Linked DNA regions of Homo sapiens: region 2 is linked to region 1. A link means that fine-mapping ties the variant in region 1 to the expression of a gene that starts in the linked region. Tissue or cell type: whole blood. Region 1 holds a variant in brackets; the other region holds the start of a gene. All regions are shown on one strand. Distances are between the middles of the regions.

Region 1 (5,191 bases):
ACCTCCTGCTTGGCTCAAGGGATTCAGATGGGTGAGCGGGCGGAGAACGTGCCAGCCCACATGGCTCCACTGCAGAGCCCAGTGCCCCAGTCCAGAGGACTCTGGCCTATATTAGGAGCAGCGGAGTGATATGATGCTGTACCTGACTCCCAGCTAGACTGGCCCCTGGCTCCCCGAGGTGTCTCCTGGGCAGGAAAGGACCTGCCCAGAGCAGCTTCAGGATTGTGTGTGGACTGACTGGGTAGGAAGGCTGGGCAGGGAGGGAGGCAGCCCTACGCTGGGGCTGCAGATGACAGGCCCTCTCGCTGGCTTCCAGGTGGACCAGCGGGTGCTCCAGGACCTGCTCTCGGAGAAGCTGCCCAGGCTGATGGCCCATCTGGGGCAGCACCACGTGGATCTCTCCCTCGTCACCTTCAACTGGTTCCTCGTGGTCTTTGCGGACAGTCTCATTAGCAACATCCTCCTTCGGGTCTGGGATGCCTTCCTGTACGAGGGGACGAAGGTAGGGTGCAGCCAGGGGATGGGCAGGGGGCCCCTGAGCAAGTCCCTTCACCCATCTGCGTCTTGACTCTGCCCCTGGAGAATGGGAAGACAATGCTTACTTGTCAGAGCTGTTGAACGTCTCCTGAGAGCATTGTCAACTGCAAAATGCTTTGCATGTATGAGAAGTAGTGGTTCTGCCTCTGAAGTTGGGGGATTTCCTTTCCGTGGAGAGGAGGTGTGAGCATGATCAGAGAGGCACATCCCTATGCTGTCCTTGCCCCCTAGTCACCTGGGCCCTCCTTTTCTTCCTCCTGTTTGGACTAAACCTTGGATTAAGAGATCGGAGCTCAGGTCTGGACCCAGCTCTGTACTGACCTTGCCCAGAGACCTTGGGCAGGTCCCCCAACTCAGCCCTAGTTTACACCTCAGTTTACAAAGCACCCACAGATTTCTCATTTCTTTCTTTCTTTTTTTTTTTTTTTGAGATGGAGCCTTGCTCTGTCACCAAGGCTGTAGTGCAGTGGCACGATCTCCGCTCACTGCAACCTCTGCCTCCCAGGTTCAAGCAGTTCTCCTGCCTCAACCTCCGGAGTAGCTGGGATTACAGGCATGCAACACCATACCTGGCTAATTTTTGTATTTTTAGTAGAGATGGGGTTTCATCATGTTGGCCAGGCTGGTCTCGAACTCCTGACCTCAGATGATCCACCCGTGTCAGCCTTCCAAAGTGCTGGAATTACTGGCATGAGCCACTGTGTCTGGCCTGTCATTTCATCTGGTTCTTGCCAAAGCCCCACGTAAAGATACAGATTAACTCCATGAGATTCAACAGGGGCCGTGCCTCACCCACAGTCATGGGACAAGACAGGCTAGAGCCAGGACTCTGTCCAAATCCCCAGATTTCAAGCTGTGCGTCCCTTCCCCCGCCCCCCCACCACCCCGCCGGGGTATTCAGTCTCCCCCAGCCCCCTGGAGCCTATCCCCACACATTGTGCCTCCAGGCCTCAACTTCCGCAGCCAGTCCAGGGTCTTCCATACTGCCCAAGTCTGTCAGGTTCCCTCCCTCCGGGGATGACCTGCCTGGCCCCCCCATGCCCTACCTGAGCCCCCACTCTACCCCCAGGTGGTGTTTCGCTATGCCTTGGCCATTTTCAAGTACAACGAGAAGGAGATCTTGAGGCTACAGAATGGCCTGGAAATCTACCAGTACCTGCGCTTCTTCACCAAGACCATCTCCAACAGCCGGTGAGGAACCCCCACCCCCTGCCACTCCCACCACTCACACACCCCCAAGGACACATAGCAGAGGGGAGGCTGATGTTTGCCAAGTAGAGATTGGTAAGTGACGCTGATGCTCGTATTATAGCTTAGAAATCTTTGGGGAAGTCTGACTGTCTGAGTGATATGTCTGCCCCCTTAACATGGCATTTGAGGCCTCCATGGAGTTTCATTTTTTGCCCACCTTCCCCTACCCTGAACACCCATGGCCAGTGATCCTGGAAAACAGAATTATACGAGTTCCTAGGACAACCCCACCTTTGGGCTTTTGCTCTTGCAGTTTCTTTTACTTAGAATGCCTCCTTGCCACTTCCACCACCACTATCTTCTTTGCCTGGTCACCTTTTATTCATTCCTTAAAACTCAGCTCACACGTGGGTCACCTCCTCCAAGAAGCCTTCCCTGACCAGCCCTTCCCTGCTGGGTTAGGTGTCTTTCTTCTGATCTTCCTCCTGCCTCAGTACATATCTCTGTGGGTGGAAATCATCTTATTCATTGTTTCCTCCTGAGGGCAGGGGTCAGGGCTCAGCCACAAAGGCAGAAGGAATGCGGGGATGTCTGTCTGGGAGAGCC[G/A]GGTAAACGCCGGCCAGGTGGGGTGACGTGCTCTGGGCTGATTGTGCCCTCCTCCCAGGAAGCTGATGAACATCGCCTTCAATGACATGAACCCCTTCCGCATGAAACAGCTGCGGCAGCTGCGCATGGTCCACCGGGAGCGGCTGGAGGCTGAGCTGCGGGAGCTGGAGCAGCTTAAGGCAGAGTACCTGGAGAGGCGGGCATCCCGGCGCAGAGCTGTGTCCGAGGGCTGTGCCAGCGAGGACGAGGTGGAGGGGGAAGCCTGACTTGGCCACCTCCCCTCCCCACAGCCTTCCTCACCCTTGGCTGGCAGACCCACTGGAGGTCAGGCACGGACCAGTGGCCCAGCCCTGGGTGTCCCATCACCATGTGACCTTGGACATGTCCCTTCCCCTCTCTGGCCCTCAGTTTCCCCACTGGGACATTGTGTGCTGCAAAGCCATTGGTTGGGCTACTTCTTCATAGGCACTTACTTACCCAGGGATGCCACCCTTTCGTCACCTCTTCCACAGAGCACTTTGGCATGTAAACAAGCAAGAGCACTGCCTCTATAGGGTAACCTGGAACATTCTCTAGGTTATATCAATATAAAACAATGTAAATGGTGGAAATCATTCATAAGCTTTGGAACTTAAACAGTTCTCAGTTACCAGTTGTTCCTGGATGGGCCCACGGTGCCAGGGTGTGCCACCACCAGGCTTCCAGCCTAGGGCATCTCTGGCTGCTATTTCTGTGAGCGTCTGCAGGGCCAGCCCCTGCCTGGTTCCCTGAGATGTTAGGGTTTTGTCTTTCTGGGTAGCAGCTCCTTTTCAATACTGCCTGGGTCTGCATTCCGGGACGCTCTCCGTGTACTGAAGCCTGTTTCCAAAGCCCGGCCCCTGTGCCCTCCTTTCTGCTCACAGCCCATTTTGGGGGGATCCCAGGGAAACCCCCTGTGCACCACCACCAGGAACTTGGTGTGGGGGTTGGGCAGAGAGCCCTGGGTCAGGTGCCCCACTTGTGACCTCCCACTGCCCACTTCACAGGCTGGGGCACGGAGGGTTACCTCTCCTCTGAAAAATGGGTGGTTGGGAGGATGGGAGAAGGTGGGAAGTAGGGACTGCTGCAGCGCAAGCCAGGGCTGGCTCGTCACAGCACCCACCGTGGCCCCAACCCAGCGTCAGCCTCCTCCAGGTCCCTCCTCAGCAAATAGAGGCTTCAGTCTGTCCCCACCCGAGGCAGGGGGTCAAGGCCATACCAGTGACTTTGGCAACTCATTTCTCAGCAAAACCTGTGTCTGTGCTGGCCTAGCCTTGAGTTGGCTGTCTTTGGTATGAAGGACTGGGGGTTCTCACATGGAAGCCTCCTCTCTGGAAAACCACCGAGGATTAGGGGACGCTGCCCTGGAACCTCCTGGCTCTGATCTGAGGCTCCCATCCAGGCTGGGGAGGAAACTTTCCCCATCACTGGGGACCATGGACGGGCCCCGTGGTGGCCCTGGCTGGTCCCTAGCCCCACTGTCACCCACAGGTGTGAATTTGAGGGGTTGGCCCACCAGGCTCCCAGTTCCCTACACTGCACCGCCTGTGCAGCCTCAGGGAGGAGACGCTCAGGGTTCCTCTCCTCCCTGTCCACGTGGGCTCCTGGCTGGCCCGAGGGCTCCACTTTTCTGTGAACACCCTGCATTGGGGCTTGACTGCCTTTCTCATTGCTAAACTTTTTTCATTCGCTAAGGCCCTTTCAGCACCAAACTGTTTATGAAGTGTGATGGTGGCATGAGGGCGGCCTGGGGGTCCCAGCTGCACCCTGGACAAGCTAGATACTGCGCCCCTAAGTTGGTCATCGGGATGATGAGAGGTCCAGCCCCATGGGGCTCCCAGGAGGGCTAAAGCAGGTAAACTGGTGCAGAGCCTGGAGCCTGGCACAGAGGAAAGTGCCACCGATGGGAACGAGCAGCCCTATTTTTTTTTTTTTTTTTGAGACGGAGCCTCCCTCTGCTGCCAGGCTGGAGTGCAGTGGCGCAATCTCGGCTCACAACAACCTCTGACTCCCTGGTTCAAGCGATTCTCCTGCCTCAGCCTCCCGAGTAGCTGGGATTACAGGTATGCGCCACCACGCCCAGCTAATTTTTGTATTTTTAGTACAGACAGGGTTTCACCATGTTAGCCAGGATGGTCTCAATCTCCTGACCTCGTGATCTGCCTGCCTCAGCCTCCCAAAGTGCTGGGATTACAAGCGTGAGCCACCGCACCCGGCCTGAGCAGCCGTCTTACGAAGGAAACACCACCTGCAGGGCCCTGAGGCCTGCAAAAGCCCCAAGGCTGCCTGGGAGCTCTGGCCCAGGCGGTCCCTCTGCCTTTAGCCTTGAAATTCACATTCCCTCTTCAGCAACAACAATCAAAAAAGAATCAGGCAACGGGCACAGGGGCTATTGGATAAATGGCAGCCCACCTCTACCTTTTTCCCTCCCCTTCCCTCCCCCTCCTCCACCTCCCCTTCCCTCCTTCCTCCCCGTCCTCCCTCATCCCCCTTTTTCTCTTTCCCCATTCTCCTCTCCTTCCCTTCTTCCTCCTTTCTCCCCTCTTCCCCCCTTTTCTTCTTCCCTCTCTTCCCCCTCTCCACTTCTCTTCCTCTCTCCTCCGTCTCCCCACATCCCCCCAACCCCAGGCAGAGGAGAAGCTCTGCTCAGAGCTGAGTGTCTGTGCTCTTTCCCTCCCCTCCTGTGGAGAGGGGTGGGTGGTACTTTGTATTTGACCCAGCATAATGTAACCTCTGGTTCCTACCTGGCTGCACCTGAGAATCACCTGAGTAGGCCAGGCGCCGTGGCTCACGCTGGTAATCCCAGGACTTTGGGAGGCCAAGGCGGGTGGATCACTTG
Region 2 (5,122 bases), 57 kb before region 1:
TAGTTTTGTACCAATGTTAGATGTTTATTTTTGCCAAACATACCAGGATTAAGCAAAATGTTAACATTAGGGGAAACTGGGTGTAGGGTCTACAGAAATTCTCCCATTGTCTCTGTAACTTTTTCTAAAACTATTCAAAAATAAAAAGTTTTTTTAAAGCCTATCGAGGCCAGGCATGGTGGCTCACACCTGTGATCCTAGCACTTTGGGAGGCTGAAGTGGATGGATCACTTGAGGTCAGGAATTCAAGACCAGCCTGGCCAACATGGTGAAACCCCATCGCTACTGAAAATACAAAAATTAGCTGAGCATGGTGCCCTGCCTGTGGTCCCAGCTACTAGGGAGGCTGAGGCAGGAGAATAGCTTAAACCCAGGAGGCAGAGGTTGCAGTGAGCCGATACCGCTCCAGTGCACTCCAGCCTGGGTGACAGAGCAAGACTCTGTCTCAAAAAAAAAAAAAAAAAAAAAGCCTATCGAGAGTTTGATTGAAAATGTATTAACTGTATGGATTAATTTGAGGAATGTGACATCTTTACAATATTAACTCTTCCCACTCAGGGACATATTTGGTTTGTCTTATATCCTACTATAAAGCAATAAGGTATTCATTATGTAAGTCATTTATGTAAGGGATGTTGTCCATTATATTTTCCATTTGTTTGCTGCTGGAGACATCTATACACATATGCACAGTTTTTTAAAACAGGCCACCACTTGAGTTTTTCTGGTATACGTAATATATTTATAATTATTCTTTCAAATATTTATCATTGCCTAGCTACAAAACCTAGAACAAATAAGGTATGCTGTTTGTTTTATTAAGAGGTTTTAAAAATCAGGAATGGGGCCAGGCACTGTGGCTCATGCCTGTAATCCCAGCACTTTGGGAGGCCAAGGCCGGTGGATCACAAGGTCAGGAGATCCAGACCATCCTAGCCAACATGGTGAAACCCCGTCTCAACTAAAAATACAAAAATTAGCTGGGTATGGTGACGCGTGTATGTAATCCCAGCTACTCGGGAGGCTGAGGCAGGAGAATGGGAATTGGAGAGCATGCCACTGCACTCCAGCTTGGGCGACAGAGCGAGACTCTGTATCAAAAAAAAAAAAAAAAAAAAAAATTAAAAAAAAAGAAAAGAAAAGAAACTGGCTGGGTGCGGTGGCAGGAGAATCGCTTGAATCCGGGAGGCGGAGGTCACGGTGAGCCGAGATCGCGCCATTGCACTCCAGCCTGCGCAACAAGAGCGAAACTCTGTCTCGAAAAGAAAAGAAATATTTTGTCCCACATTCTGTACTAAGAGCTTCACACATATTATTTTATTTAATTATCAAAACAACTCTAAGGGTAGACAGGTGTAGATCCAGGTTTTGTGGGGACTGGAATTAAACAGCATTAAGGGCCTTCTGATTTTTAAAAAATTACAAAATTATGAACACAAAATTAGGTATGACGATGGTTATTTAGAATGAGAAAATAAATTGTAAATTATAACAAATGAAGAGCTCTCTGGCATTTAGGAGAAATGCTCCCTGGTTGCAACTCCCCACCTGTTAGACTACAAATCCCAGCGACCCATGCAAGTGAACATAAATTTCATTAGCTTCACCGTAAAGTTGTCTGGCGGCGGGTCGGGGGTGGGTAGGAAGAAGTGTTATCTCCATTTTTAGGTTGAGCAAATCACTCAGTATTGCAGAGTGGGAATCTGAAAATTATGCAAATAGACTCTAGAGCCCTCGCCTTTACCCCCACCCTGCTTCTTGTCAATATCACTGAGTGTGCATGAGGGTCTCGTTAACGACGGCTGAGGGGGAGACGATGAAGTAAGAGGAAAGGCTGAACAAAGGGCAAGAGAAAGGCAGAAAGAAGCTCCTAAAGAAAGCTGGACGCAATTGGGCTCCGCAACCCTAATGGAGAAATGCGCCTTAGGAGGGAAGGGGAGAAGTTTAAGGGGAAACAGGTAAAATGAGGCAGAAGTTGAGCAAGTTAGTCAAACCCTAAATTCTTTTACTTATTTACAAAACAGCCTGGCGCGGTGGCTCTCGCCTGTAATTCCAGCACTTTAGGAGGCCGAGGCAGGAGAATCGCTTGAGGCCAGGAGTTCAAGACCCCCCTCTCTGCAAAAAACAATTTAAAAATTAGCCGGGTGTGGTGGTGCGCAGTTGCGGTCTCAGCTACTCGGGAGACTGAGGCGGGAGGATGGCTTGAGACCGGGAGGCGGAGACTGCAGTGAGCTCTGATCGCGCCACTGCACTCCAGCCTGGGTGACAGAGCCAGACCGTCTCTAAAAATAATAATAGCAATAACAAAATAAAAATAAATGTACTGCACCCAACTATGACCCAGGAGTGGCATGGGTTTCCGCAGCGCAGCGGCCGCGCCTGGGCGCCCCAAGCAACACAACCAGCGCTGTCAGGAGGCGAATAGGAGCCAGGACAGAGAGCTGGGGAGGCCACTGCTGTCAGGCGAGGGATAAGAAGGCCGTCCGCGGCGTCACTGACGGGGCTGAAGGAACACCAGGAGAAGAGTGGCAGACAGCTCCGGAGCCGCGCTGCCCGGGCGACGCCGGAAGATGGGCCTCCCAGCGGTCTTCCTTTCAGCCAATGGCCGCGAGATGCGCCGTCCGAGGGTGCCCCGCGCGGCACAGGGAGGGAACAAGCAGCCCATCGGGTGCAAGAAAGCACTATCTTTCTAGGTGACTATGCGAACTACCAGGGAAGTGTAGCTAGGGACAGGCTTCTCTGCCCGCGGTTAACCTAACTCAGTGCCACCACGCCTTTAACCTGAAGCCAGGGAGCACGGCTGCCCTCAGTAAAGATGGCTGACTGGCGCGGAGAAAAAGCCGGAAGCAGCTGGGCTTTGCAGGGAGCCGACTGAGCGCTGCGGGGGCGTGGCCTGGCGGTGGAGGGGCGTGGCCAGCCGCCGTAACCTGGGTTTGCGATCTTTGAGGCGCGCGCACCGCACCCGGTCCCGACTCTGTGGCTTCCTGGGGGCGGGTTCGCCGTCGGCCCCGCCCCCGCCCAGGTGTCTCCCTTTGGGAAGCTGCCCGCCGAGTCTCCGAGATTTGTCCCTGGTGGTCCCGCGGACCCCTCGTCCCTCCGCAGTCTCCGGCTGGCAGCGATGGAGGGCGCTGGGGAGAACGCCCCGGAGTCCAGCTCCTCTGCCCCTGGGTCCGAAGAGTCTGCCAGGGATCCACAGGTGCCGCCTCCGGAGGAAGAATCGGGGGACTGCGCCCGGTCCCTGGAGGCGGTCCCCAAGAAACTCTGTGGGTATTTAAGTAAGTTCGGCGGCAAAGGGCCCATCCGGGGCTGGAAATCCCGCTGGTTCTTCTACGACGAAAGGAAATGTCAGCTGTATTACTCGCGGACCGCTCAGGATGCCAATCCCTTGGACAGCATCGACCTCTCCAGTGCAGTGTTTGACTGTAAGGCGGACGCTGAGGAGGGGATCTTCGAAATCAAGACTCCCAGCCGGGTTATTACCCTGAAGGTAAATTCCTGCAACGACTTTCTCCTTTCCAGCGGCGTGAGGTCCCCTTTTCGCAGGGCAAGGCTGGGCGCGAGTGTGAGGTGGACACAGTAAATTTGGAGTGTCGGTGACGACAGTTCCAAGAACTTTGTGCTTTGCAAAGTGCATTCCCACCCATTTCCTCATTGGGTTCCCACAAGGCAGGGAAGACAGACCCATTTTACGGATCAAGAAACTGAGTCAGAGGGAGATGAAAGGACTGGCTCGAGGTCCATGCGTCTAGAGAGTAGGGTAGCTTGGAATCCCATAGTCTTTCTACCTCTCAGTGCTGAATCAAAACTTTTACTTTTGGGTGTGCCTGACAGTGCAGTTACCTTAACTTTCTTACCTGGGACCTAAGTAAGTCAAAATATGGTCTTTGCAATCCTCTCTCAAGGCCAGGATTCTGATTCCCGTTTCTTGATATTTTGGCCAAGGTCAGTGAATGCTGAGAAGAGACTGGCAGGGATTAGGAAAATAAACACTTAGGTTTCACTGATCAGCCTAGATTGTTCATCTAGGCATGCTTAAACCTGTTTTCCTATCAGCAGCAAGGGGTAGGTTTTATCATCATGTGTAACTGAGAAAGCCTAAAGCAGTAGAAAGGCCACATTCTTTGAAATCAGACGGGCTTGGATTCAAATTGTACATTTGCTACTTACTAGCTGTGTGACCCTGGACAAGTTACTTAACCTCTCAGAACCTAGGTGGTTTGTAAGCATTTGACACATCACAGGCATGTACAAATTGTTGAATTAATTGCATCACCTAGAATACAGCCTGGTACCTAGTGGAGTACTTAATAATTTTTTGTTGCATAAGCACACATGCACACACAAGGTGATGGAACCAAGGTCAGAGTGCTAATGTCAAGAGGAGGTGTCCCATAACTTAATTGGAAAGACAGATCTGGGCTAAGTGTTCTATGGGCATCAGAGAAGAATGTGCCAGGAGATAGCCTTCCCCACCCCATCCCCATCTGTCCACCCCTCCAACCCCAACTCCAGCTAAGTGGGTATCTGTGGATGCCCACGTGTTCAGTTCTCCTTTACTGACTGGACTTGGCGGGTGACCAGGCTGGGGGACTTGGTTAAAATAATGAAACTCAGGAATCCCTGGCCAGGGAAGGCATTTTCGAGGTCATGTGGTTCCCGGGTCTATGTGTCTCTTCCACAGGTTGACTGCTGTATGCAGGGTCTTCAACACATGGTCTTTATAATAGTATTCCATTGTTCCTGGCTCTGCGCTTGGCGGGGTGTGGAGCTAATGCACCCCCACCCCTGGTTCTCTGACAGCTTAAAGTCTGGTGGGAGAGACTGAGGGAGAACCTGCATGCACCCTGAAATGTTCTGTAGAGACATGTGATAAGTCTGTGCAAGAAGGTGTGGTGACAGGAGGAGTCAGTTCCACCAAGTGGAAGGGGCTAGCCAGAAAGGCATCTGGAGGAGGGACACACCCAAGGCTTGAAAGAAGAAATAGGTGGCAAGCAGACAAGAGGGAGAAAGGTATTCCAGGCCAAGAGAGCACCGTGAGCAAATTAGGAAACCATGATACAGCCCTGAGTGTCCAGGCAAATCACATGAGCCAGAAAAACAGAGGGGCCCAAAGGATGGAGTT

What was found. PIP is the estimated chance that this variant, and not a neighbour inherited with it, causes the effect.
Region 2: it holds the start of TBC1D2, and the variant in region 1 is fine-mapped to the expression of TBC1D2 in whole blood (TOPMed, PIP above 0.99).

Annotation. Positions count from the first base shown.
Region 1 is chr9:98,196,790-98,201,980 of GRCh38, reverse strand. It overlaps TBC1D2 (TBC1 domain family member 2), which reads left to right. Exons shown (of 13, transcript NM_001267571.2): 11 at 317-502; 12 at 1,607-1,728; 13 at 2,393-2,970. The coding sequence ends at 2,600. Among named protein-coding and RNA genes, the nearest start is that of CORO2A, 6.7 kb to the right of the region's middle. RefSeq lists enhancers at 1-250, 556-605, 251-752, 1,993-2,860, 2,861-3,728. The variant G/A (reference allele first, on the strand shown) is at 2,335.
Region 2 is chr9:98,253,538-98,258,659 of GRCh38, reverse strand. It overlaps TBC1D2 (TBC1 domain family member 2), which reads left to right and starts at 3,011. Exons shown (of 13, transcript NM_001267571.2): 1 at 3,011-3,487. The coding sequence starts at 3,119. RefSeq lists an enhancer at 2,287-2,776 and a silencer at 2,947-2,996.